Homo sapiens: one gene and its partners. The protein of the gene in region 4 purifies or fractionates together with the protein of the main gene of each other region. This does not show direct contact. Each region holds a gene or a part of one and is shown on either strand. Other genes may lie near its edges.

Evidence for each region.
Region 1: the proteins of HDAC8 (region 4) and MME purify together in Homo sapiens (affinity purification with mass spectrometry; one large-scale study listed by BioGRID and IntAct). This does not show direct contact.
Region 2: the proteins of HDAC8 (region 4) and TPM4 purify together in Homo sapiens (affinity purification with mass spectrometry; one large-scale study listed by BioGRID and IntAct). This does not show direct contact.
Region 3: the proteins of HDAC8 (region 4) and CROCC purify together in Homo sapiens (affinity purification with mass spectrometry; one large-scale study listed by BioGRID and IntAct). This does not show direct contact.
Region 5: the proteins of HDAC8 (region 4) and ZSCAN2 purify together in Homo sapiens (affinity purification with mass spectrometry; one large-scale study listed by BioGRID and IntAct). This does not show direct contact.
Region 6: the proteins of HDAC8 (region 4) and CPNE3 purify together in Homo sapiens (affinity purification with mass spectrometry; one large-scale study listed by BioGRID and IntAct). This does not show direct contact.
Region 7: the proteins of HDAC8 (region 4) and MDM1 purify together in Homo sapiens (affinity purification with mass spectrometry; one large-scale study listed by BioGRID and IntAct). This does not show direct contact.

Annotation. Positions count from the first base shown.
Region 1 is NC_000003.12:155,139,319-155,142,818, reverse strand, and holds part of MME (neprilysin), read right to left. Parts: intron 2,629-3,500; coding exon 2,527-2,628; intron 829-2,526; coding exon 692-828; intron 583-691; coding exon 489-582; intron 1-488. UniProt on the Homo sapiens protein: Thermolysin-like specificity, but is almost confined on acting on polypeptides of up to 30 amino acids. Biologically important in the destruction of opioid peptides such as Met- and Leu-enkephalins by cleavage of a Gly-Phe bond.
Region 2 is NC_000019.10:16,089,995-16,093,494, reverse strand, and holds part of TPM4 (tropomyosin alpha-4 chain), read right to left. Parts: intron 1-3,500. UniProt on the Homo sapiens protein: Binds to actin filaments in muscle and non-muscle cells. Plays a central role, in association with the troponin complex, in the calcium dependent regulation of vertebrate striated muscle contraction.
Region 3 is NC_000001.11:16,949,431-16,952,930, reverse strand, and holds part of CROCC (rootletin), read right to left. Parts: intron 1,979-3,500; coding exon 1,809-1,978; intron 1-1,808. UniProt on the Homo sapiens protein: Major structural component of the ciliary rootlet, a cytoskeletal-like structure in ciliated cells which originates from the basal body at the proximal end of a cilium and extends proximally toward the cell nucleus.
Region 4 is NC_000023.11:72,489,344-72,492,843, reverse strand, and holds part of HDAC8 (histone deacetylase 8), read left to right. Parts: intron 1-1,837; coding exon 1,838-1,915; intron 1,916-3,500. UniProt on the Homo sapiens protein: Histone deacetylase that catalyzes the deacetylation of lysine residues on the N-terminal part of the core histones (H2A, H2B, H3 and H4).
Region 5 is NC_000015.10:84,599,702-84,603,808, reverse strand, and holds the start of ZSCAN2 (zinc finger and SCAN domain-containing protein 2), read right to left. Parts: upstream 2,801-4,107; 5' UTR 2,674-2,800; exon of another isoform or gene 2,294-2,673; intron 1-2,293. UniProt on the Homo sapiens protein: May be involved in transcriptional regulation during the post-meiotic stages of spermatogenesis.
Region 6 is NC_000008.11:86,545,435-86,548,934, reverse strand, and holds part of CPNE3 (copine-3), read right to left. Parts: intron 2,341-3,500; coding exon 2,254-2,340; intron 1,225-2,253; coding exon 1,165-1,224; intron 635-1,164; coding exon 501-634; intron 1-500. UniProt on the Homo sapiens protein: Calcium-dependent phospholipid-binding protein that plays a role in ERBB2-mediated tumor cell migration in response to growth factor heregulin stimulation.
Region 7 is NC_000012.12:68,308,363-68,311,862, reverse strand, and holds part of MDM1 (nuclear protein MDM1), read left to right. Parts: intron 1-3,500. UniProt on the Homo sapiens protein: Microtubule-binding protein that negatively regulates centriole duplication. Binds to and stabilizes microtubules.

The DNA of each region.
Region 1 (3,500 bases), on a different chromosome or scaffold from region 4:
CCATAGTACCAAAACAGTGATTGTTTAAATAATATAGGTATAGGCTAAGAAAAGGTCTTATTTAACTCCAGGTAGGGGTACTTTCAATAGACTGCCCACATCAATATTGTCCATCTGTGTATATGTCCAGTGTGCAATGAGCACCTGAAAATCAAATTAATTAAAATAGATAACCCCGAAATTACTTTTAACACAGTAACAACAACAAAAAATCCAGACAGTATTCTTTCATGAACTGGTTAAATAACCAAATGTAACTCCTTACAGGACAATGCAATCATCGTGCCACATAGACCATCATAAGATGGTAAAGCCCATGAAGATTTATCTTCCTCAGCAACATGTCCTAAATATGTGCAAGATAACGAACTTTGGCATTTTGTCCCTTTGCAAAGTTCACCATGTCCTAGCAGTGTACATGGTAAGCCTTCATAACCATGTATCACTTTATGCTTTAAGTCTTAAGAAAAGAGAGATTTTTTCTTCACCTTGCGGAAAGCATTTCTGGACTCCTTGTAGGTTCGGCTGAGGCTGCTTACAAGATCCATTATGAATCTCCAGGACATTAAATTTTGAAGATCTCTGTATAAAAAAAACCACCGCCCAGCAACAGAAAAGATGAGGCTGCAAAGCTTCTGAAGAGTGATATGAAATGCAAACTTTGAGGACATGGGGACTGTGACATACCTACCTGGCAGAATATTTGGTAAGAATGGGCTTAAGTTTGGTTAAATATTCTGGAGCATAAACAACCACATCTTCCTCATTTGTAATACTAATATTCACAGTTGACATGATTTCATTTGTGAAATTCAACCAGCTGAATGGCTGGAAAAAAGCAGGCATGAAACATTCAGAAATTGTGGATTTCTCTTCTTGGGTCCAAGATTCAGTTATAGTTAGAGGGTTGGATCAGTTTGATATTCACTTGGGATTCTTCCTCAATTGTTTCAATCAGTTTTTAAATAAAAACTAGTTCTGCAACATGATTATTTACCTAGCATAATTAAGCCAACCATTTAAGAGCGAAAACAAAGCCTTTAAGCTTAAGGAACATATACCTAGAAATTAGGCTTAATGTCATCTTCTTTGTCTAACCAATACAGAAAATAAAAATATAATTTAAATTTAAATTTAAAAATAAAGCTTTTTTGGTTTATGCAAAAATGGAAATGTGTGTAAAGTGTTTAGCTTTTAAAAGTGGGTATTAATAAACAATTCATTCAAACACAGTAACACATCTCAGTGGAAATCCTATTATAGATGAAAATATACTGTTATAGCAGTGGTACAGTGATGTTATGAAGTCAAAGAAAACAGCATCTTTTCAATTATCGATATTGGGTCTACAGGCATGCCATGTTTATACTTCAGAAGCTAAGTACGGAGTTGCCAAAAGATGAAATCTTGTCTTTCTAAATGGGAATTGATAATGTTTAAGACTATCAATATCTTAGGTTGTATTTTACACACACAGACACAAGCACACATCACTTACTGAGTATAGGGTGCTATGCTATACAATTTTCTTCATTTCCTTTGGTGGTTTAGGTCATTCTTTCAAAACGTATTTATTAAACACTTATTATATTAAAAAATTCTATGTAAGATGTCTAACTCAATAGTTTATGCCTTTGGAAAAGTCCTTGTTAACTAGAATTAGTGCCAAAGAGAATGTCATCGCTGAATGTGGTAGTTTGTAGGTTTTCCCATGGATATTGCTTCATCTCTTGGCTGTGTGCATCAACTAATACACGAGAATAAATGCATAGCCACAAAAAGAGATTATTGGATACTAGGTAAGGAAAAAGAAGTCAACTGCTGTTTATAAATGGAATCTATGAGAGAGCTTTTCTTTTTATTTGTGTCCTATTTCTGAATTATTGTTCTGAACACCTCTGTAGATGGCCTTGATGAGAACACGGGAAGTTCTATGAATAAATTATCCTTTTTTGGAGTTAAAAGGAAATCTAGTGCTTTTATTGTGTGACTGTCCAAGTCTGATGACTACATAATGGCCTCTCAGAAAGATTTTCAGTTTTAGTATTTTTCAAACCCCTTCCTATGGGAGTTTCTAGTATTATTGTATAGCTGCCTTAAAAGGAATTTTACCAGCTAAGAGTGGTGGCTCACACCTGTGGCTAACACTTTGGGAGGCTGTGGCCGGCAGATCACTCGAGCTCAGGGGTTCGAGACCAGATTGGCCAAACCTCATCTCTACTAAAAATACAAGAATTAGCCAGGTGTGGTGGTGCATGCCTGTAGTCCCAGCTACTTGGGAGGCTGAGGCAGGAGAATCGCTTGAGCCTGGGAGGTGGACGTTACAGTGAGCCAAGATTGTGTCACTGTACTCCAGCCTGGGCAACAGAGTGAGACCCTGTCTCAAAAAAAAAAAAAAAAAAAAAAAAGGAATTGAAGTCCCATTTACTTCAATAAATAAAAACTTGACGAATTTTAGAAAGAGTATTTCAATGTTATAATTTAGAAAACGGCACAATAAGAGAGCACAAAAAACTTACCACTTACCTTCCCATTGATCTCTAGTGAAAAGTTATTTTGGATCTGGGCCAATGTCATCTTGTTATACAGAAGCATTGGATCATTTCGATCTTCAGGTTTAGCCGTAGCCTATGGATTTAATTTTTAATCATTATTTTAGAATTAAGAATTCTTTAGAAAAATATAACTACATATGAGGGTAAAAATATAGGATAGGTACAACATAATTTAAGTCCTATTCTGTACTTGTTTTTGTAATTTGTTTTGTCATTTCAAAAAAAGTGAAATGTAAGAGATTTTTGGAGTAGAAGTAGTAAGAATTATTGAGATTTGGCTGTGGGGTCAAGTTTAAAATTTTTAAAAAATCTGTCTATATTTTGACAACTGCCAAGCCATATAAGCAATATTTATGAGCTATGGCTAATGGCCAGTTCAGTTGTGTCTGTGAATGTTTCATATTTTAACTTTCTTTGATATAGTCATCTCCAATTTCTCTCTTAAATACTCTCTCTCCCATCTTCACCATTACCATTCGGTGTCCTAGTTAAAATTCAGCAAGGAAAAAAAGGTGCAAGAGTTTCTATAAGAATTTATCGCAAGTAACAGAGAAACTTCCTAGTACAGAGCACAATTTGGTTGCAAGTTATCTGAGAATGGCAACATCATGGACCTTTGTGACTGTTCTCCTATCCTGCCAGACCAGCAGCATCCAATTTTATTTCTTTCACTGAATTAAAAAGAAAAATTGCAATAACAACTCCCCAACTAGTGGCTGAAATGAGTAAAAGCAATTTTAAGTGAGAAGAGACAAAAGGTAAAGGTTTAAAATTGGAATTATTTCTCAGTGACAATGGCTCCAGTTTCCCCTTTAGGTCACTTACCTATTCATTTACTGAAAACAATTATTTATTGAGCATGTCCTTTGTGCAATACTATGCTGGATTTTGTTAGAGATGCATAAATGATTCAAAGACGTCTAAGGCCTCATGCCAATCTAATAC
Region 2 (3,500 bases), on a different chromosome or scaffold from region 4:
CAGCCAGGCATGGTGGCTCATGCCTGGAATCCTGGCACTTTGGGAGCCTGAGGCTGGTGGATCACAAGGTCAGGAGTTCGAGACCAGCCTGGCCAACATGGTGAAACCCCGTCTCTACTAAAAATACAAAAATTAGCCAGGCTTGGTGGCATGCAGCTGTAGTCCCAGCTACTGGGGAGGATGAGGCAGAAGACTCACTCGAACCTGGGAGGTGGAGGTTGCAGTGAGCCGAGATCACGCCACTGCACTCCAGCCTGGGTGACAGAGTAAGACTCCATCTCAAAAAAACAAACAACAACAACAACAAAAACAAAAAAAAAACAGAAAGAAAGAAAAGGAGGGCTGGGTGTGGTGGCTCTCACCTGTGATTCCAGTGTTTTGGGGGACCATGGTGGGAGAATTACTTGAGCCCAGGAATTTGAGACCAACCTGGGTCACATAGTGAGACCCCGTCTCTACAAAGAATTTAAAAATTAGCCAGTCATGGTGGTGAGCACCTGTAGTCCCAGCTAATGGGGACGCTGAGGAGGGAAGATGGCTTGAACCCTGGAATTCAAGGCTGCAGAGAGCTCTGATTGGACCACTACACTCTAGCCTGGGCAACAGGGCAGGACCCCATCTCAAAAAAAAGGAGGAAGAAGCATAAAAAGAAGTAAGCAGGCCAGGCACGGTGGCTCACGCCTGTAATCCCAGTACTCTGGGAGGCCAAGGCGGGTGGATCGCTTGAGGTCAGGAGTTCGAGACCAGCCTGGCCAACATGGCGAAACGCTGTCTTTACTAAAAATACAAAAATTAGCCAGGTGTGGTGGTGGGTGCCTGTAATCTCAGCTACTCAGGAGGCTAAGGCATGAGAATTGCTTAAACCCAGGAGGTGGAGGCTGTAGTGAGGCCAGATGGCGCCACCGCACTCCAGCCTGGGGCGATGGAGTGAGACTCCATCTCAAAAAGAAAAAAAAAAAAAAGTAGGCAGAGTAGAGGCAGGCACCTTTCCCCAGCAGAAGAAATATGTGTGAAATGTGGAGGATGTTGGGGAGAGTCCTGTAGGATGGTATTGATCAGAAGGCCTAAACTGAGAACTTGAGATAAAAAGTATGGCGAAGAAAGGGAGATAACTGGGAATCTGTTACTCAAGGCCCCCTCTGTATTTCCAACCCCATTCTCCACCACCTTCCCCAGGGTGACAGGCACTCCCTGATCATAATCTGTGGACTCCTGAGTCCCAGTCCCTGTCCATGAATGCACCCCTTAGCATGGAATGTTCCCCTCCCCATGATGACCCATCAGAAATTATACTTTTCTTTTCTTTTTTTTTTTTTTCAGACAGAATCTTGCTCTGTCACCCAGGCTGGAGTGCAGTGGTACGATCTCGGCTCACTGTGACTTGCAACTTCTGCCTCCCAGGCTGAAGCAATTCCCCTGACTCAGCCTCCCAAGTAGCTGGGCCTACAGGCGCCCACCACCATGCCCAGCTAATTTTTGTTATTTTTAGCAGAGATGGGGTTTCGCTACGATGGCCAGCCAGGCTGCTCTCGAACTCCTGACCTCAGGTGATCCGCCTGCCTCGGCCTCCCAATAATAACTAACACTTATTAGCTGCTTACCATGGGCCAGACATAGTTAATGGCATCACAGCCTGGTATCTGTAATCCCATTTTATAGGGGAGGAAAGGGTCACAGAAAGGTGAAGTTATTATTTTGCCTAGGGTCACATGGCTATTAAGTGATCAAGTCATGACTGAAGCCTGACTCTGGAGTGCAGTGGGGCAATCTTGGCTCAATGCAACCTCCGCCCTCCAGGCTCAAGTGATCCTCTCACCTCAGCCTCCCAAGTAGCTAGGATCACAAGCATGCACCACCATGCCCAGCTAGTTTTTGTATTTTTGGTAGAGACGGGATCTCTCCATGTTGCCCAGGCTGGTCTCGAACTTCTGAGCTCAAGCGATCCTCCCGCCTCGGCTTCCTAAAGTGCTGGAATTACAGGCATGAGCCACCGTGCTGGACCTACAGCTGTTTTAAATGTCGCCTCCTTGGTGACACCGTTCACAACCTACCAAGGTCCCTCTATTGTATTCCCAAAGCACTCTGTGACTTTGTCAATCCCTTCCACTAGACTCGACTCTGAGCTCTTCAAGAGCAGATGCCAGGCTGGGCACAGTGGCTCACACCTGTAATCCCAGCCCTTTGGGAGGCCGAGGTGGGTGGATCACTTGAGGTCAGGAGTTTGAGACGAGCCTGGCCAACATGGTGAAACTCCGTCTCTACTAAAAATACAAAAATTAGCTGGGCGTGGTGTGTGCGCCTGTATTCCCAGTTACTCAGGAGGCTGAGGCAGGAGAATTGCTTGAGCCTAGGAGGTGGAGGTTGCAGTGAGCTGAGATCGTGCCTCTGCACTCCAGCCTGGGCGACAGAGCAAGGCTCCATCTCAAAACAAAACAAAACAAAGCAGCTGAGGTATTAGTGGTGTTACATCTATCCCCCTGGCCCGGGGCAGTGTCTGGCATACACACACCAACTGGATTCATTCCTTACACATCCTAGTATCAGATATATGCCAGGGCTGGCACATATGGGAGACAGAGGCAGGTGGATCACTCGAGGCCAGGAGTTTGAGATCAGCCTGGGCAACATGGTGAAACACCATCTCTACTAAAAAAAAAAAAAAAAAAAAAATTACACACACACACTACAGATATATGCCAGGCACAATGCTAGTACTAGGGACACAACTCTGAACAAGATGACATGGTTCCTGTCCTTACAACTTACAATCTAGCAAGGAAGGCATGCAATTAATGGAGTAACTATAATAAATGTAAGAAATCATAATGCCAGCAAAAGTATAGACAGGGCTACACAGCAGAGAAATACCTAACCTAGATGAGAAATCAGAGAAGGACTCTCAGAAGTGATGTTTAAGCAGAAGCTCAAAGGATGAACAGGAGGCCAGGCTCGGCGGCCTCCCAAAGTAATCCCAGCACTTTGGGAGGCCAAGGTGGGAGGATCACTTGAGGCCAGGAGTTCAAGACCAGCCTGGCCAACATGATGAAACCTTGTCTCTACCAAAAACTAGAAAAATTAGCCAGGCACGGTGGCCCACGCCTGTAATCCCAGCACTTTGGGAGGCTAAGGTGGGAGGATCACTTGAGGCCAGGAGTTTAAGACCAGCCTAGGCAACATAGACTGTGCTCTATAAAAAAAAAAAAAAAAATACAGTTTTGGAGTAGTGGCACATGCCTGCAAGTCCTAGCTACTCAGGAAGCTGAGGTGATAGGATTATTTAAGCCCAGGAGTTTGGGGCCTGCAGTGAGCTATGATCACGCCACTACACTTCCAGCCTAAGCAACAGAGCAAGATCTCATCTCTAGGCCAGGTGCAGTGGGTCATGCCTGTAATCCCAGCACTTTGGGAGGGCGAGGCGGGCAGATCACTTGAGATCAGGAGTTCGAGACCAGCCTGGCCAATGTGGTGAAACCTCATCTCTACCAAAAATTATAAAAATT
Region 3 (3,500 bases), on a different chromosome or scaffold from region 4:
GGGGCCAGGACAGGCCGTGTGGGCCATGGGGATTCTAAGGACAGTGAGGGGAGTGGGAGAGAGGACTCGAGCCAAGGTGACAAGGAGCAATCTGATTTTTAGCTTAGGGGATGTTCCGACAGCTGTGGAAGAGGGATTGGGGTTGGGATGGAGGGGAGTTAGGACTGGCTGTGAGGAATGAAGGGGGTCAGGGGTTGCCAGAGGAGCTGGAGAGAACACAGATTTGGGGACATTAATGAGGCCAAGCCAGGCAATGCAAAGGGCAAGAAGAGCAAGGGGGAGGTCACAGGAGTTCAGATCCCTGGGGACTGGACAGGCGGGCAGGCAGAGCCCACAGGCAAATAGCAGCCCACCTGGGGAGCCTGAGGGCAGGTGCCTGCCTCAGCACTTGCCCCTAGCAACTCTGTGAGAAGCAGACAGAGCTGCCACTTCTTTTTTTTTTTTTTTAGACGGAGTCTTGCTCTGTCACCCAGGCTGGAGTGCAGTGGCGAGATTTTGGCTCACTGCAACCTCTGCCTCCCAGGTTGAAGCGATTCTTCTGCCTTACCCTCCCAAGTATCTGGGACTACAGGCGCGTGCCACCACGCCCAGCTAATTTTTTGTGATTTTTAGTAGAGATGGGGTTTCACTGTGTTAGCCAGGATGGTCTCGATCTTCCGACCTGGTGATCTGCCCACCTCGGCCTCCCAAAGTGCTGGATTACAGGCATGAGTCAGCACGACCGGCCAAACCGCCCCTTCTTTAAGATCTTCACCGTAGCTCATGCCTGTAATCCCAGCACTTTGGGAGGCCGAGGTGGGCAGATTACGAGGTCAAAAGTTCGAGACACCCTGACCAATATGGTGAAATCCCGTCTCTACTAAAAATGCAAAAATTAGCCAGGCGTGGTGGCGCGCCTATAATCCCAGCTACTCAGGAAGCAGAGGCAGGAGAATCGCTTGAACCCAGAAAGTGGAGGTTGCAGTGAGCCGAGATTGCGCCACTGCAATCCAGCCTAAGCAACAGAGCAAGACTCCGTCTCAAAAAAAGAAAAAAGAAAAAAAAAAAAGAGCTTTACCGCCACCTCCTGGAGAAGCGTGGTAACAACCACCCAAGGCCAGGGGTACTGCAGGGTGAGTGGCATGCCCTGGAGCCATGCAGTCATAGCCTGCACCTCTGTCAGAGGCAGCCCTGTCTAGGATTTGGTGGCTGAGGGCCCCTGTCCCGAGGGCCACTCTGGAGAGCATGTCAGTGCCAGCAATCATAACTTATGGAGCATTTGCTAAGTACCAGTCACTATGCTAAGCCCTCTATGCAGATGGTCTCAGCTCATCTTCAATACCTTTCACTATCCTATCCCTATTTCTACAGGTGGGGAAATGAAGGCACGGACACCTTGGGTAGCATCACCAGTAAGCGACCAAGATTCGATTCAAACCCAGGCAATTCAAACCCAGAGTCAGTGTTCTAGTAACTTCCCTGGCCCCTTGCCTTTCTATATGCTGAGGTCTGAGTGGCTCTTCATATGCAAACAGTACTTCTTAGCAAATGAAAGTGCTTTCCTGCTGTACATTAGGTCAGTATTTCCCAAATGTGGTTGTGGACCCTCTGCATCAGGATTACCAGGGCTGGACCAGATTTGGGACCTGGGAATCTGCATGTCTAATAAGAACCACAACCTCCCCATCCCCCCAGTCCTCCTAGCTGTCCCCAGGACCTCCACAACAGAGAGGAAGTCCCATTTCACAGATGTAGAGACCGAGGCAGAGCAAGAACGATGATGAAACACTGGCTCAGAGTCCTGCCCACCCCTCCCCAGCTGCCTGAACCTTTTCACGCTGGAGTCGCTGTAAGTCCTCCTCGTGAGCTGCCCGCTGCTCCCGCAGAGAGGCCTGGGCCTCCCGCTCAGCCTGCACCAGCTTCTGGGCCATCAGCTCCTTGTCTAGACTGGCTTTCTCCTGTGTAGCTATTATTTGCTGCCGCAGGCCCGCCAACTCCCCTGCACGAGAGGAATGGGGGAAAGGGCAGGGTTGGGTTGAAACTTTTCCTTGGGCCAGCAGACTTAGGCCAGGTGAGCCACATGGGCAAAATCCCAGAGGCAGAGGGCCTGCCTGGCATCTAGTTTGGGTCCTCTTGAAGTGGCTTGCCCTCTCTGGGCCTCAGTTTCCCTATATGCTACATGGGCCCACTGGCCCTGACCCCTTTCCTGCCTACCTAGAATGGCATTAAAGGCATAAAATGACTGATGAGAAGGCCTCCCAAATGGGACGGATGTCAAACATATAACAACCCTAGGTCAGGTGCCTTGGCTCACGCCTGTAATCCCAGCACTTTGGGAAGCTGGGGCAGGTGGATCACCTTAGGTCAGGAGTTCAAGACCAACCTGGCCAACATGGTGAAACCCTGTCTCTACTAAAAATACAACAATTAGCCAGGCGTGGTGGCAGGCGTATGTAGTCCCAGCCTCAGGGAGGCTGAGGCAGGAGAATCGCTTGAACCCAAGAGGCAGAAGTTGCAGTGAGCTGAGATTGCACCACTGCACTCCAGCCTGGGCAACAAGAGTGAGACTCTGCCTCAAAAAAACAAATAGGCCGGGCGCAGTGGCTCATGCCTGTAATCCAGCACTCTGGGAGGCTGGGTCAGGTAGGTCACCTTAGGTCAGGAGTTTGAGACCAGCCTGGCCAACACAGCGAAACCCTGTCTATACCAAAAATACAAAAATTAGCCAGGCATGGTGGCGGGCATATGTAGTCCCAGCTACTTGGGAGGCTGAGGCAGGAGAATCGCTTGAATGCAGGAGGCAGAAGTTGCAGTGAGCCGAGATCGCACCATTGCACTCCAGCCTGGGCAACAAGAGTGAGACTCTGTCTCAAAAAACAAACAGGCTGGGCGTGATGGCTCATGCCTGTAATCCCAGCAGTTTGGGAGGCCAAAGCGGGTGGATCACCTGAGGTCAAGAGTTCGAGACCAGCTTGACCAACATGGCGAAACCCCGTCTCTACTAAAAATATAAAATTAGCCAGGCATGGTGATGCATGCCTGTAATCCCAGCTACTTGGGAGGCTGAGGCAGGAGAATCGCTTGAACCCAGAAGGCAGAGGTTGAGGTGAGCCGAGATAGTGCCATTGCACTCCCGCCTGGGCAACAAGAGTGAAACTCTGTCTCAAAACAAACAAACAAAAAACAACCCTATTCCTGACTGAGCACTTACTATGGGTCAAGCGCCCAGCTAAGTATTTTAGACATAACCTCATTTTGTCTTCATAACATGCCTATGTAGTTTATCCTCATCCCCATTTAACAGATGATGAAATGGAGGCTCAGAGATCAGCAGCAACTTCCCACAGCTGCACAGCTACACATAAAGCATCTCCTTTAATGACTGACATGAACATACCCGTCAAACGTTAACTATTTATATTAATGGAAATGACTACAGGGAATGGAAATGGTATAGCTACCATCTAAAAACCATCTCCCGGGTTGGAAACCCACCAGCATTTCCCTTCCTGGTTCTGTCT
Region 4 (3,500 bases):
TGCATATAGTAGTGGCTCATTAAAATATTTGATCAATGAATGATTATGAAATTCAAACTATTAGTATCGGAGTTTAAGAATACAATCAACTCTACAGAACCACATAAGAATGAACTGAAACTGTCACCTGAAAGTGTTCTTTCCATTTGCAATGTTATTTCTACACCCTTCAGAGTTTCCTGTTTTAGCCAACTTTTATGGTGTGTTTCATTTCAGTTTATTTCCCCTCTTCAGCACCTCCCTTACAGTGACCCCTGCCCCACCCCCCAACACTTATGCATTTGGTTTATTTTAAATCTCCCATGATTACATAACTAGCATCCTGTGGTGGCTTCACTAGCCACCCCTACCCCATCCTTGCCTTCTTTCATCTACCTAACTACTCTCCTCTTTCCCACCAAGTCCATAGCTTCCTCCTATCTGTGTACATCTCCTTTTTAAATATGATTTTATAACTGTGCCTAGTGGTATTTCCCATGAGAAGAAATACAAATGGCCACTAAACTTATGAAAAGGTGCTCAACACTCTAATACTCAAAGAAAGGCAAATTAGAGCAAAACCATTCTTTCTGCCTAAGATTAAAGAGAATAACAATAGTTTGGGAACTCTCATACATGATTGGTCCAAGTGTAAATTGGTACAACATTTCTGGATTGATCAATAATCAGGATTTTCATGAATTATCCTTGTTTAAGACTTCATTTCTAAGTTGAAATACTATTTTCATTTATTTTGTTTGTTTTATTTTTTTTACTTCATGCTTTTTGCTTAGAGCCTTTAACTGGATTTAACTGCCTCCCTAGGGCCAAACATAAGGCTTGGGAAATTCAAACATACCTGTTATATATAAATAGAGTTAATATTTTTTTAAAGTCGCTGTTGGGGCTGTAGTGAAGACTGAAAACATTAAATAAATACAGAGACAATTTCTTTGTTTGAAGTAAGAAAGAGGACAGTACCTGAATTTGCTAATAGTCCTCCCATTTTACAGATTGATTATCTGAACATAGTGTGACTATATGTGATTCTGAGAGGAAAGGGGTGGAGGTGGGCAGTGTGTTTACCTGTATACGTAGAGGCTTGTGAGGGTTACTTTAAATCCCAGCTTTTATCTCCCAGGCCTCTAATCGTTTACTCACTAAGTTAAAATGGAAAACAGACCCCTTTCTCGCCCATCTTTCTTCAGATTTTAAAACACTCTTATAAGGCTGCTATTAGGAGACAAGGTCACGGCTGTTTTCAGCCTTCCATGTTTTAGCCAGAAAGATGTACTATAAGTTACTTATTTATAACCAAATCTGCATTATAGAAAGGCACTTTATAATTAGGTTTTTGGTATATAATGGCTAATGTTTCTATTGGTCATATTTTTCAAAGGGTTATCACGTTGTACGTCTTTGGAAAAAATCCCAAGACTTTAACTATAACCACTTAAACAAGACAAAACATACAACTTGTAAGATGGTTCCAGTTTCCCTTATTCAATTCTGTTGATAATGCCTCAATTCTAGGCTCTCGCCTTTCCCTACTTTTTAGAACAGGTTGTCAAAGAGAGCCCAGACATCCCATTGCTTGGAAAGGGGAAGTCCAGTTATAGTTTTCCATGAGTTTGAAAAGGAACCCCCAAACTTCACTTGGGGCCAAAGTTCTACCTCATCTTGTAATTACGAGATTAGAGACCAGAGGTTCGTATTACTTTTATTCCTCAGCTTGTTAGTTTTATATTGCTGCCTTCTCATCTACCCTCCTTCTCACAGCTGCTTTCTAGATTTTCAGATGTTGAAAATAGGAATGCCATATGTGAAGTGATTCTTTTGATGTTTCTTTATCTGTTAGGTGTAGAAGACGCATTCAGTTTCACCTCCAAAGTCATGACCGTGTCCCTGCACAAATTCTCCCCAGGATTTTTCCCAGGCAAGTGATCATAAACTCAGTATTACATTTGATGACTAAATACTGAAATTCTTCTACACATTTCTTATACTTGGACAGTTCCATGCTGTTAATGCCTTACTGCCACAATCCTATGCAAAATTTTTTTTTTTGCATTTTCATTCAGATAGGAGATAATTTTGTAAATTTCTTTTTTATTATACTTTAAGTTTTAGGGTACATGTGCACAATGTGCAGGTTAGTTACATATGTATACACGTGCCATGCTGGTGTGCTGCACCCATTAACTCGTCATTTAGCATTAGGTATATCTCCTAAAGCTATCCCTCCCCCCTCCCCCCACCCCGCAACAGTCCCCAGAGTGTGATGTTCCCCTTCCTGTGTCCATGTGTTCTCATTTTTCAATTCCCACCTATGAGTGAGAATATGCGGTGTTTGGTTTTCTGTTCTCGCGATAGTTTACTGAGAATGATGATTTCCAATTTCATCCATGTCCCTACAAAGGACATGAACTCATCCTTTTTTATGGCTGCATAGTATTCCATGGTGTATATGTGCCACATTTTCTTAATCCAGTCTATCATTGTTGGACATTTGGGTTGGTTCCAAGTCTTTGCTATTGTGAATAGTGCTGCAATAAACATACGTATGCATGTGTCTTTATAGCAGCGTGATTTATAGTCCTTTGGGTATATACCCAGTAATGGGATGGCTGGGTCAAATGGTATTTCTAGTTCTAGATCCCTGAGGAATCGCCACACTGACTTCCACAAGGGTTGATCTAGTTTACAGTCCCACCAACAGTGTAAAAGTGTTCCTATTTGTCCACATCCTCTCCAGCACCTGTTGTTTCCTGACTTTTTAATGATCGCCATTCTAACTGGTGTGAGATGGTGTCTCATTGTGATTTTGATTTGCATTTCTCTGATGGCCAGTGATGGTGAGCGTTTTTTCATGTGTTTTTTGGCTGCATAAATGTCTTCTTTTGAGAAGAGTCTGTTCATGTCCTTCGCCCACTTTTTGATGGGGTTGTTTGTTTTTTTCTTGTAAATTTGTTTGAGTTCATTGTAGATTCTGGATATTAGCCCTTTGTCAGATGAGTAGGTTGCAAAAATTTTTTCCCATTCTATAGGTTGCCTGTTCACTCTGATGGTAGTTTCTTTTGCTGTACAGAAGCTCTTTAGTTTAATTAGATCCCATTTGTCAATTTTGGCTTTTGTTGCCATTGCTTTTGGTGTTTTAGACATGAAGTCCTTGCCCATGCCTATGTCCTGAATGGTGATGCCTAGGTTTTCTTCTAGGGTTTTTATGGTTTTAGGTCTAACGTTTAAGTCTTTAATCCATCTTGAATTAATTTTTGTATAAGGTGTAAGGAAGGGATCCAGTTTCAGCTTTCTACATATGGCTAGCCAGTTTTCCCAGCACCATTTATTAAATAGGGAATCCTTTCCCCATTGATTGTTTTTCTCAGTCCTGTGCAAAATTTTAACACAGGTCACCTCAGGTGACAATAACAAGAAGAATGACATTAAAGCTGTTTCTTTTTCCAGGTGATTTTTATGGACTGTTAACAGATCACTTATGCTTACTATACTAGTAGACACCC
Region 5 (4,107 bases), on a different chromosome or scaffold from region 4:
AAAAGAGAACCATAATCCATAGGTAGACTGTCCTAAAGCAATCTAACTCACAAAAGCCCAGGTCAGACCACCAAGTGGCCCTTACATATGCAAACCAACAGACGTTTCCTGTTCTTCTTAAAGAAAAAATGGCTTATTCCTGAAAACATCTCTCTGTGGTAAAAGAAGGCTGGGTGCAGTGTCTCATGCCTGTAATCCCAGCACTTTGGGAGGCCGAGGTGGGCGGATCACCTGAGGTATGGTGAAACCCCATTTCTATTAAAAATACAAAAATTAGCCGGGCGTGGTGGCGGGGGCCTGTAGTTCCTGCTACTTGGGAGGCTGAGGCAGGAGAATCTCTTGAACCCAGGAGGCGGAGGTTGCAGTGAGCACAGATCTCGCCACTGCACTCCAGCCCAGGCAACAGAGTGAGACTCCGTCTCAAAAAAAAAAAAAAAAAAGTATCCCAAGCACAAAAAATACAGCATTGTTCCTTCCAAAACACCAAAGAATGAGTATCAGAAATGCAAAGTCCCCGGGAAAAACCCATGACTGAAATACTGAGGACTCTCCTAAGTCAGTTTCGACTTGCACTGTGTGACCTTGACCTAACATACAACTTAGTCACCAAACTCGGTGACCACCTAATAAAGATAATAACACTCATGTTTCTGTTTTTATGGGGGCATCTTAAGGATCAGCAATGGATCAGATGTCAAAGCACTCTGAGCTTCTTTGGAAGAAAGGCAATATCTCAACTGCATTATTACCATACTTTAAGTATGAAGTTTAAAACATGCATATACTCTCCAATCCAGCCTCGGCCCCTCAGTACTTTATCTTAAAAAAATAACCAAAAAATCGAGTCCTTAAAAATCCAGCAGCAGGGAATGGCTAATAAACTATGACACACCCATATAGCAGCATGTATTAGAAACTGTGCTATAGGCTTGGCGTGGTTGCCTGTAATCCCAGCACTTTGGGAGGCCTCGGCAGGCGGATCACTTGAGGTCAGGAGTTCGAGACCAGCCTGGCCAATATAGTGAAACCCCGTCTCTACCAAAAATACAAAAATTAGCCAGGCATGGTGACGGGCGCCTGTAATCCCAGCTACTCAGGAGGCTGAGGCAGGAGAATTGCCCGAACCTGGGAGGAGGAGGTTGCAGTGAGCCGAGATCGTGCCACTGCACTCCAGTCTGGGCGAAAGAGCCAGACTCTGTCTCAAAAAAAAAAAAAAAAAAAGAAAAGAAAAGGAAAAAAAAGAAAAGAAACTGTGCTATAATAATGGCTACCTTTAGGTGGTAATGACAGGAAAGGGGCTCAAAGGAGCCTTCTGGGATGATGGAAATTTTCAATATCTTCATTTGGCAATGGCGGCACAAGAGCAAACATATGAAATTTAAGATCTGCACATTACGCTGTATGTTTTTAATATTTTAAAAATTATATTGACAAAGATTAATCATTAATGATTTAAGATAATCCTTCTGATAGGAAAATAATGGATAAACACAAAATCAGCAGGGCAGAAAAACCATAGACACAGTAAGTCCTCAATTCCCTTTAAAAATGAACTCACAGCCGGGCGCGGTGGCTCAGACCTGTAATCCTAGCACTTTGGCAGGTTGAGGCGGGCGGATCACCTGAGGTCGGAAGATCGAGACCAGCCTGACCAACACGGAGAAACCTCGTCTCTACTAAAAACAAAATTAGCCAGGCGTGGTGGCGCATGCCCGTAATCCCAGCTACTCCGGAGGCTGAGGCAGGAGAATCGCTTGAACCCGGGAGGCAGAGGATGCGGTGAGCGGAGATCAGGCCATTGCACTCCAGCCTGGGCAACAAAAGCAAAACTCCGTCTCAAAAAAAAAAAAAAAAAAAAATGAACTCACAGGAAAAAAGAACGGGACGGCACCTACAAAATATTGAAAGCAGTGGAATTGCAAACGACTTAAAATATTATAAAAGCAATACAAAATTATTTTTAGCCCAAGCGCTGTAGCTCACGCCTGTAATTCCAGCACTTTGGGAGGCCGAGGAGGGAAGATGGCTTGAGGCCGGGAGTTCATGACCAACCTGGGCAACAGAGTGAGACCCAGTCTCTACAAAAATAAAAAAATTTTTTAAAAAATCATTACTACATCATAAAGACTCAACTAACAACCCTCCCTCAATGAAAAGGGGAGAAAAGCTGACAAAAGCTTAAAAAAAAAAGGACAAAAAATAAAAGCTAGTGGGAAAACCGAAGCTCTCAACGTGTATTTACTCAAATGACTAGAAGAAATACTGGCATATGGTGTAAGAGAACTCTTCCTACTTGGGAGCCTGGGAAAAGTGTGCCAGGTCAGCTAATTTGCGGTCTGACTTGGGGCACGACACGCCCCCTCTGAACCTCAGTTTCCCCATCTGTAAAACGTGTACGCTGCGCGGGATGTCGTCGAATGCCCCTTCCCGTCCAAAGCCTGCGCTTCTCGGTAGGAGAGGCAAGGAGCTCTCCGCCAGGGAGACGCGTCCGGGACGGTTCGCTGAGCGGAGCCGGCGCGTAAATCGGGGCTGCAGGGCCCGCAGGATACGGAGCGCGACCCCGACGCCCCTCCCCCAGCAGAGCTGCCGGCAGCTGGCTCCAGGCCCACTATTCCCTCACCTCGGGCTACTGCCCGGGGTCCGCGTGGCTCCAGGCCTGCCTCTCCGGCTCACCTCTCGGGAGACCAGGTCCTGCTCTAGCGGTTGCTTCGCGTGCGAAAGCGCCCCCGGGCTCGGCCCGGCCCCTCCAGATTCACCCCGGCTCAAGCCCGTGGGGCACCGAGAACAATGGACGGGAGAGGCCCGCCCACCGCCGCGCTCATTGGCTGCCGAGAACGGCCCTGGAAATTCTGCCTTTCTGTTGGTGGAGACGGCACCCAGCCGGGCGGCAGGAGGGAGGCTGGGCCCAAGGCATTGTGGGAGATGTAGTCCGCCCGGAGACGAACCTGACCGCGGTCCCCGGAGTAGGGTTTGGGGCTGACAGCCTGGGCAGTGCCTGCGGACCAGAGGCAGGAAAATCCGCAGACTGACCGTCAGAAACCCTGTGTTGGCTAGAGCTGTAACCCGAGACAAGCCGTTTCACTTATCTAAGGCCTCTGTATATTTGTCTATAAAAAGTGAAAGTTGGATGGCCGGACTTGAAGGACCTTTTCGGCTGCGAACCTTGTGGCAAGGAGTATTGTTAGGCACCCTCGACCGGCGAGAGCGGACCCTGGGCAGGAAGGGAATCCATGGGGGAACAAATCCTCATCGCCCAAGCCTGGCGCCTTTCCCCCAGTTTGCAGCTGTACACATGCACCCGGTCTTCGCACACCCCTTTGTTTTCGCACGTGGTATTCCTGTGTTTGGAGGAACGCCCTGCCCCGCCTCCTCTGCCGCGGAACTCCCATTCTTCCAGCTTCTCCTGGGTGGAGCCTGCCCTGTCATCACCACCTCCCCAGGCAGAGACACCGCCCCTAGTACACGTGTTGGACGTCCCCATTTTATTTTTTAAATATATATATGTATGTATTTGTATATATATATATATATTTATTTATACACACACACTCACAGACAGGATCTACATTTCATAGAGACAGGGTTTCCATATGTTGCCCAGGCTGACCTCGAACCCCTGGGCTCAAGCGATCCTTCCTCCTCAGCCTCCCAAAGTGCTGGAATTACAGGTGTGAGCCACCGCACCTGGCTGACGTCTCCATTTTAGTACTGATCACCGGGTTGCTTACTTGTCAATCTCAGTATGGGGGAAGGGAGGGTGCCCGGGTGTGGGAGGTTGGCCTCCATCTTTGTGTTTTACGGCTGGCGCTGTTGAAGAAACGGCTGCCCCAACCCTGCTTGAAAACAGGTGAGAAACTACCTGGAAACTCAAGCGGAAAATCTAAAAATGGAGAGAGACACCCTTAATGGTCTGTGATAGAATAGTTATGTATGTTTGCACTGAGCAATTACTGGAGGCACCTGCAATGAAATGACTGCTTTTTTTTTTCCTCCTCTGTCGCCCAGGCTGGAGTGCAGTGACACGATCTCGGATCAAGTGATTCTCCTGCCTCAGCCTCCCAAGTAGCTGGGATTACCGGCGTGCGCCACCACACCTGGCTAATTTTG
Region 6 (3,500 bases), on a different chromosome or scaffold from region 4:
AAATAATTTGGCAACTGCCAAGGACATAGATATGCTAAGAAATAGTTTTTATTTCTTAACATAAATAGTATTTAGTATTTATAAATAGTATTTAGTATTTAACATAAATAATATTTAGTATTTATAAACAGTATTTATAAAACATGTCATCTGGGCTTCAATCACTCATACAACTTATGCCTAATGAATAAGCCCCAAGGAAACCAGACTAAAGAAACAAGAGCCTTGCTGACATTCAGTCAGGAAGTAAGTAGCAAACTATATGTAATATAAAGCAAAGTACATGCCATATATGATAACTAATCACAGAAAGATATTAGAGATCTAAGGTAAACAGCAAGATTGCCACAAGGAGAAAAATAGAAGATAAGACGGGGGGATTTTAGGGAGAAAGCATCATCAACCTACCACCTATATCAGAGTGCTAGCCGATGAAACAAACTACCCTTTCTGGGGAATTGTGAAAACATGTATTTTAGTTTTTCCAAAGTCATACTCACGCATCATAATCTTGAATGACCAGTCCCACAGACCAGAGAGCAGTCAAATACTCATTAACGCCATTGGGGCTGATGTAATGAAGGGAGTCTGGAGACCTTGGGTCACCATTGGAGCCAGTGAAGTCCACTCCCACCTGCCAAATAACAATTGCAGCCCTTAGTAAGGAGAAGGCAGGGACACCTGTGCTTGATGTCCAGGAAAACTTCAAGAGATGGGATACAATCATGCATCCTGGCGCCTACTTCCTAACAAATGCCTACCACTATTTCCATAGACAATTAAACAAGTAAAGCCTAAATGTGAAACAACCTGATGCTTCTACTTTTCTAGATGGCTTAAATAATGAATTATTGTATCCATTACTTAAGCTTAAGGGTTGTCTTTTATAAGGTTGTCTCACTAATGCTTTCTAGTCCTTAAATTAGTTCAGGATAACCACTAGTTTGTAGGTTTGTATACATCTGCTTTCTCTCAGGAGGAAGAGATCTCATCAACAAAACTGAGAGCTTCATGATGAGCCCAGACAACCTGCCTGAGGACTCTAAGAGGACTATGCTAAACAGATTGTGAAAATTTCATTACAAAGTCAGTTTTGCAGTGAAAGAAAATATACTGCAACATGGAGGAAAAAGCCTATGCTGAAAAATTCAGTGTGTTACTTACAGTAAAATTCAGCTGACATCCTCCCATTATATAGTCAAGGAATGTGCATTCTACTGTAATCTAAAAATAAGAGAAAACTTAAAATTACAACTCTCCTACTATACAAGAGAAGCAAAAAACTCTTTGGCATATATTTTTAAAAGTCTGTAAATTGAACAGGACATGATATAAACATGGAAATTACCCCTGCATTCAGGTTTAAGATACCCCTTCCCCTATGTGCCATGAATCTGTAAAATTCTGCTTCAAGATAATTGTAGCAATGTTAAGATTAGAATACTAATGGCGAAAGATGAAATACACTCATTTTAAGTTTTAAGATATTAGTAATGAATCCAATATGTTGAGGGCTTTAAAAAGCATAGCAGTCAACATTTTAAAAAACAAAAACTCCATTCCACTTGTTCACCCTAAAAAATCTTGGCTTTTCCCCTTTACTCATAACATTTTATATTGAAAGTATGAAGAGGATAAATGCATTGGGTAAGGTCATTTCCACTAAAGAGCTGAGAAAATACTATGATGCTTTATATTTCCTAAGATAACGAAAAACTTATCCTTGTCCTTTGCAAATAAGTTGTCAAACCTTGGAAACAGGTTACTTGATTTTTTTGTTCTTCCCTACTTGATTCTTTTTGCTAAAGGTGACCAGATGCTCATGTGATTTTCAACTGCCTGAAATTCAAGTATTTGTTTAATATAAACATACTAACAGGAGAACTTGAAATATAATCTCATTATATTATAAGTAGCCAAGGCTTGGGTCGGATGCGGTGGCTCACACCTGTAATCCCAGCACTTTGGGAGGCCAAGGTGGGTGGATCACAAGGTCAGGAGTTCAAGACCAGCCTGGCCAACATGGTGAAACCCTGTCTCCACTAAAAATACAAAAATTAGCCAGGTGTAGTGGTGGGTGCCTGTAATCCCAGCTACCTGGGAGGCTGAGGCAGAGAATTGCTTGAACCCAGGAGGCAGAGGTTGCAGTGAGCCGAGATCACACCACTGCGCTCCAGCCTGGGCAACAGAGCGAGGCTCCAGCTCAAAAAGAATAAATAAATAAATAAAAATAAGTAGCCAAGGCCAACGGACCTCACACTGTTTCACACTGATAACACCTGAATTCTTGTAGCTTTTTTTCTTTTGCCTTTTTTTCTCATTTATGCATTCAAATTCAACCTGTAGGAAGAGAAGACAAAAATGTTACTTTTTATTAGCAATATTAGAAATGCCAATGTGACTTTAAATGAATGACTTTTTTTCCTTTAGAATCAAACTACCTACTGATGTAGGTCTGTTGCAAAATATAACTCTGAAACAATTACATAATATGTTAAGTATGTGGAATATTTATCAGGTAAATTTCCAACAATTAAGGCACTCCTAAAATTGCATACCTTTCAAAATATTTCTCCCAAATAAATTTTACCTCTGCAGGTAATTTCCTTGCAAATGTTCCAAGGCATAATCTTTTTTCTCTTTGCTGCATATTTTACCATAGAGTTGGGCCCTATGATATAACATGGTATAATAAAGGAAATAAAATATTACTCCTAGCTGTTACCAACATAAAGAACGAAAATATGCTGCAAAGAAAAGAAAAAAAAATAACATCATAAAACAAATATATGAAGCCCAACTCTATGGTAAAATATGCATCAAAGATCTTCTCTTTCCACTGGGAATACATGTTAAAAATTGATCTAACACCTCCTCTTGTTTATATTTCCTTCCCCCAAAAGAATGATCTTCCTTCCCCTTCCTATCCCCCTATCCATCTTTAGGGCTTGGCTCAAGTTGTTCTCCTCTGTAACTTCCACTGCTACTCTAGTCTTCTCTGATCTCTATCTACCTCTTTAAATTTCTACAACTATATGAAATTTAGTTACATACTCTGTGTTATTTTCAAGTGTCTCATTTAATTTTTTCTTCACAGTGACATTATAATCACCTCCAACTTATACCTTCAAATTCTCACTGTCTTGCCTAATAATAATATAAGAGATATTCAATAAATGCTTGATAAGTCACCTCTTCTGGTTAACACAAAGCCACTTATGTACTTCAGACAGTCATTACTAGTTTTCCAAGAATCAAACACTAAAAAATACACGTGGTATAATACAATGATGTGAAACAAAATTATGTTAAACAAATTCTTTGATGGTTCAGGATCTTGCTGGAGTCTCAGTCACAATCATAAGTATTAATTGTTGAGTATTAGAAATTAAAGAAAGGAAAAACAATAAAAAATTATTATATATTAGAGCTAAAGAAATTCCACAAACCGAATTCTCATTGAAAAAGGGCTAGATTACTTCACTTATTCATTTATACCT
Region 7 (3,500 bases), on a different chromosome or scaffold from region 4:
AGGGACAAAAGCCTAAGTGCAAGTGAATTCAAGAGAAAAAAGAGGAGAAGAATTGGAGAAAGCTGCCACAGATAATTCTCTGAAGTTTCTTTTCCAAGAAGGGAAGCAGAGTAATGCAGGAGTAGTTGAGAGAAGTGAGAACAAGATGGAAGACACAACAGCATGTTTGTATGTTGACAAGAATAATTTTGGAGAGAGAAAAGTTGATGATGCAGGAGTGAGGGGAAAGTTGTTGGAAAGATGCTCTTGAGTAGGAGAAAGGGCTTAGGATCTGGTGGAGATATGGAAGGGTTGGCTTTAGACACTGATTGTTTCTTTATTGTTAAAAGAGGGAAAGCAGAATTCATGGGCAGGCACTGCTGATGAATGTAGGAAGATGTGATGGCAGCTTTTGGAAGACCTCTTCTTATTGCTTCTTGGTGACATGTGAAGAAAGATCCTTACTGAGAATAAGGCTGGGGAAGATGTTGGAGATTTGAGGAAAGTGAAGGCATAGAGTAGTCTTCTCAGAGAGTGGGAGAGTGAGTGGGCCAGGGGAATGTGGGATATTTTAGGCCAATGTTAAGGGGCCATTTTAAGTTGGTGGTCACAAAGTTGGCAGAAGACCAGTCAGGAAGGGTTGTGTGCCCTTCTCCAGTAATGTTTGGCTGCAGAAGTGCAGGATACTTTTATCAGATAGAGTTGGATTTACCTAGGGTTTTGAATTTGTCATGAGAATAAGACAAAGTGAGAAAAAGGGGAATGGAGTTGAGGTATATATGAAGAAGGGATTATAATGAGTTGGTGAGGGAAGGACACTGGGACTTGAGAAGAGTGCAGAGGTGATAGGATCGGTGGATGGATGGTCTAGGTAAAATAAAAGACTTGTTGGAATTGGGGCACCTGTGGGGATTAGTTTTAAAGTTAGGAAATGGTGGTCAGAAATTTAGGTTATGGAGAGGTTGCAGTTACCAGTAATGACAAGGCTTAACTTAACATCATGGGTGTAAGTGGTTGGAGTAGAATAGAGAACATTCAGAGAAAAGGTTGAAAATCTATAGGGAATTTTGCTGATGGCTGTTTGTGAATTTGAGTACAAAGTAGGAGTTTTCAGGGATTGGGAACAGGTGGGAGATGGGATCAGAGCACCCTCTACCTCTTAATCCCCAGTGCTTAGAACAGAGTCCAGCTCATAGCACGTAACAGATTGAATGAATGTTATTGGAGTGACAGAATATCAAAACTATTTCCTGTTGCTTATGTATACACTGGTTTATTAAAGGAAATGTGACATTAGGAATATGGTCAGAGGACTCATGAGAATCAGATCTTAATGGACTGTTTTACTCCTCCTTAGAAATCCAGGCTGCCATCTGGAAGGTGTGAGCTTTTAGGCAACTGTATACACACAGCTGATTCAGCCAAAACGAGTGACTCATCCATATTTGTGGCTGGATTTATATGTATTATTTTCACTTACTGTGGAATTAATTTATTGAATAATCTAAATAGAGTAATATCATCCCTTAGAATGTTAATGCCATTCTCTGTCTCACTGTGAGTACTATACACTTTTAACATTTTAATTACCAACTCCTCTAAAATAAGTTTCTGGCCTGGTGCGGTAGCTCATGTTTATAATCCCAGCACTTTGGGAGGCCAAGGTGGGAGGATCACATGAAGCCAGGAGTTCAAGACCAGCCTGGCCAACATGGGGAAATCTTGTCCCTACTAAAAATACAAAAATTAGCTGGGCGTGGTGGCAGATGCCTGTAATCCCAGCCATTTGGGAGATTGAGGCACAAGAATCACTTCAACCCAGGAGGTGGAGGTTGGAGTGAGCTGAGATCACGCCACTGCACTCCAGCCTGGAAGACAGAGGAAGACTCTCTCCAAACCAATAAATACATACATATGTACATACGTACACAAGTTTATTATTGACAACTTGATTGGATATCCTTCCATGTGAATTTTCTGCGACCAGCACTACCAGGGACTATACCAGGAGCTAGCTAGATTTGGTTATTTCCCAGTGTCTACCCCTTGGTTACTGGTAGGCAGAGGAGTCACTAAACTTTGATATACACCATCAGTTTTTCCCCTTATATTCTCTTATAAAAGCATTGATAAGAAATTACGTTATTATTATGTATAAAATTAAACCCATAGGTCATTCAATTTCCAATAAATTATCAGTATGTCCCAAAACTTTAGGGTAGAATTCTCATATTGGTTTGATCATCAGGAAACATTTTCAAATCTTTATATTAAAAACCCAAGTGTGGATTTGCTCACTTCATTCATTTAGCAGATTTACCCACATGCTATGGCAATGATAATGGATAGAAACAGACATGGTACATAATCTTATGAAACCTGCAGTCTGGTAAGGGAGATACATGTTAATCACACCAAAAAAGAAATGAAATTAAAACTAATAAGAGTTTCAAAATAAAAGTACTTAGCACTATTCTGGAAGGAATTGTTCTAATCATGGAGATCAGAAACCTTCTTGGAAGTCAATGATGCTTCTTTGAAAAACTCATAATTGAGCTAAGATAAAGGAGAAGAGGAAGCATTAACCAGGAAAAAAGGATGGGGAGAAGGAGCCTAGCATATGCCAAGATCTTGTGGAGAGAAACAATGTAGAGTTTGAGGAAACAAAGACCAATACAGTGTGTGGCAGGGAGCCTGGTACAACATGAGGCTGGAAAACATGGCAACATTGGGATTTCTTTCGTTATCTCAAGAGCAATGGGAAGCCATTGAAATATTTTCAGTATGGGAATTGTGATGGATATATGTTTTGCAAGATCTGTCCGGCTGCCATAGGAGGCAAGAGTAGGCTGTGAATGCCCTTAAAAGGCCATTGCAGTAGTCCACGTAGGAGGTGTTGGTAGCTTGGATGAAGGAGGGTAGGAATAGACAGAAGTGGATGAAACTGCACAATTATGTAAGGGGAACAATGTTAAGGTTGATGCTGGGTTGGATAATGGATGAGAGACAGGGATGCCTGCTAAGTTTCTGGCTTGCCCAACAAGATTGATGGAGGTACCATGCACTGAGCAAGAGAACTCTGGACAAGGAGCCTCTTTGGAGGGTAGTTTTATTTTCATTCATTCAATTCAATATTTAATAGGCTCTTACCAAGTGCCAGGCACTGTTCTAGGATCTGAGGATTTATTGATAATCAGGTCAAAATCCCTGCCTTCATGAAGCTTACATTTTCATTGGGAGGAATAGACAATTTTTTAAGAAAATAATTTCACATAGTAGTAAGCGCTGTGAATTAAATAAGACTACAGGTCTCTAAGGGATGGGTAAGACAGCTTTAGTTTGGGCCATCAGGACAGGCACCTCTAAGGAGATGACGTTTTAGCTGAGACCTGACTGATGAGGAAGGTGCCCATGCAGAGATCTGGGGCAGAGATTGTTTTCCAATTAGAAAGAACAGGGGCCGGGCGCAGTGGCTCATGCCTGTAATTCCAGCAGTTTGGGAGGCCAAGGCAGGTGGATCA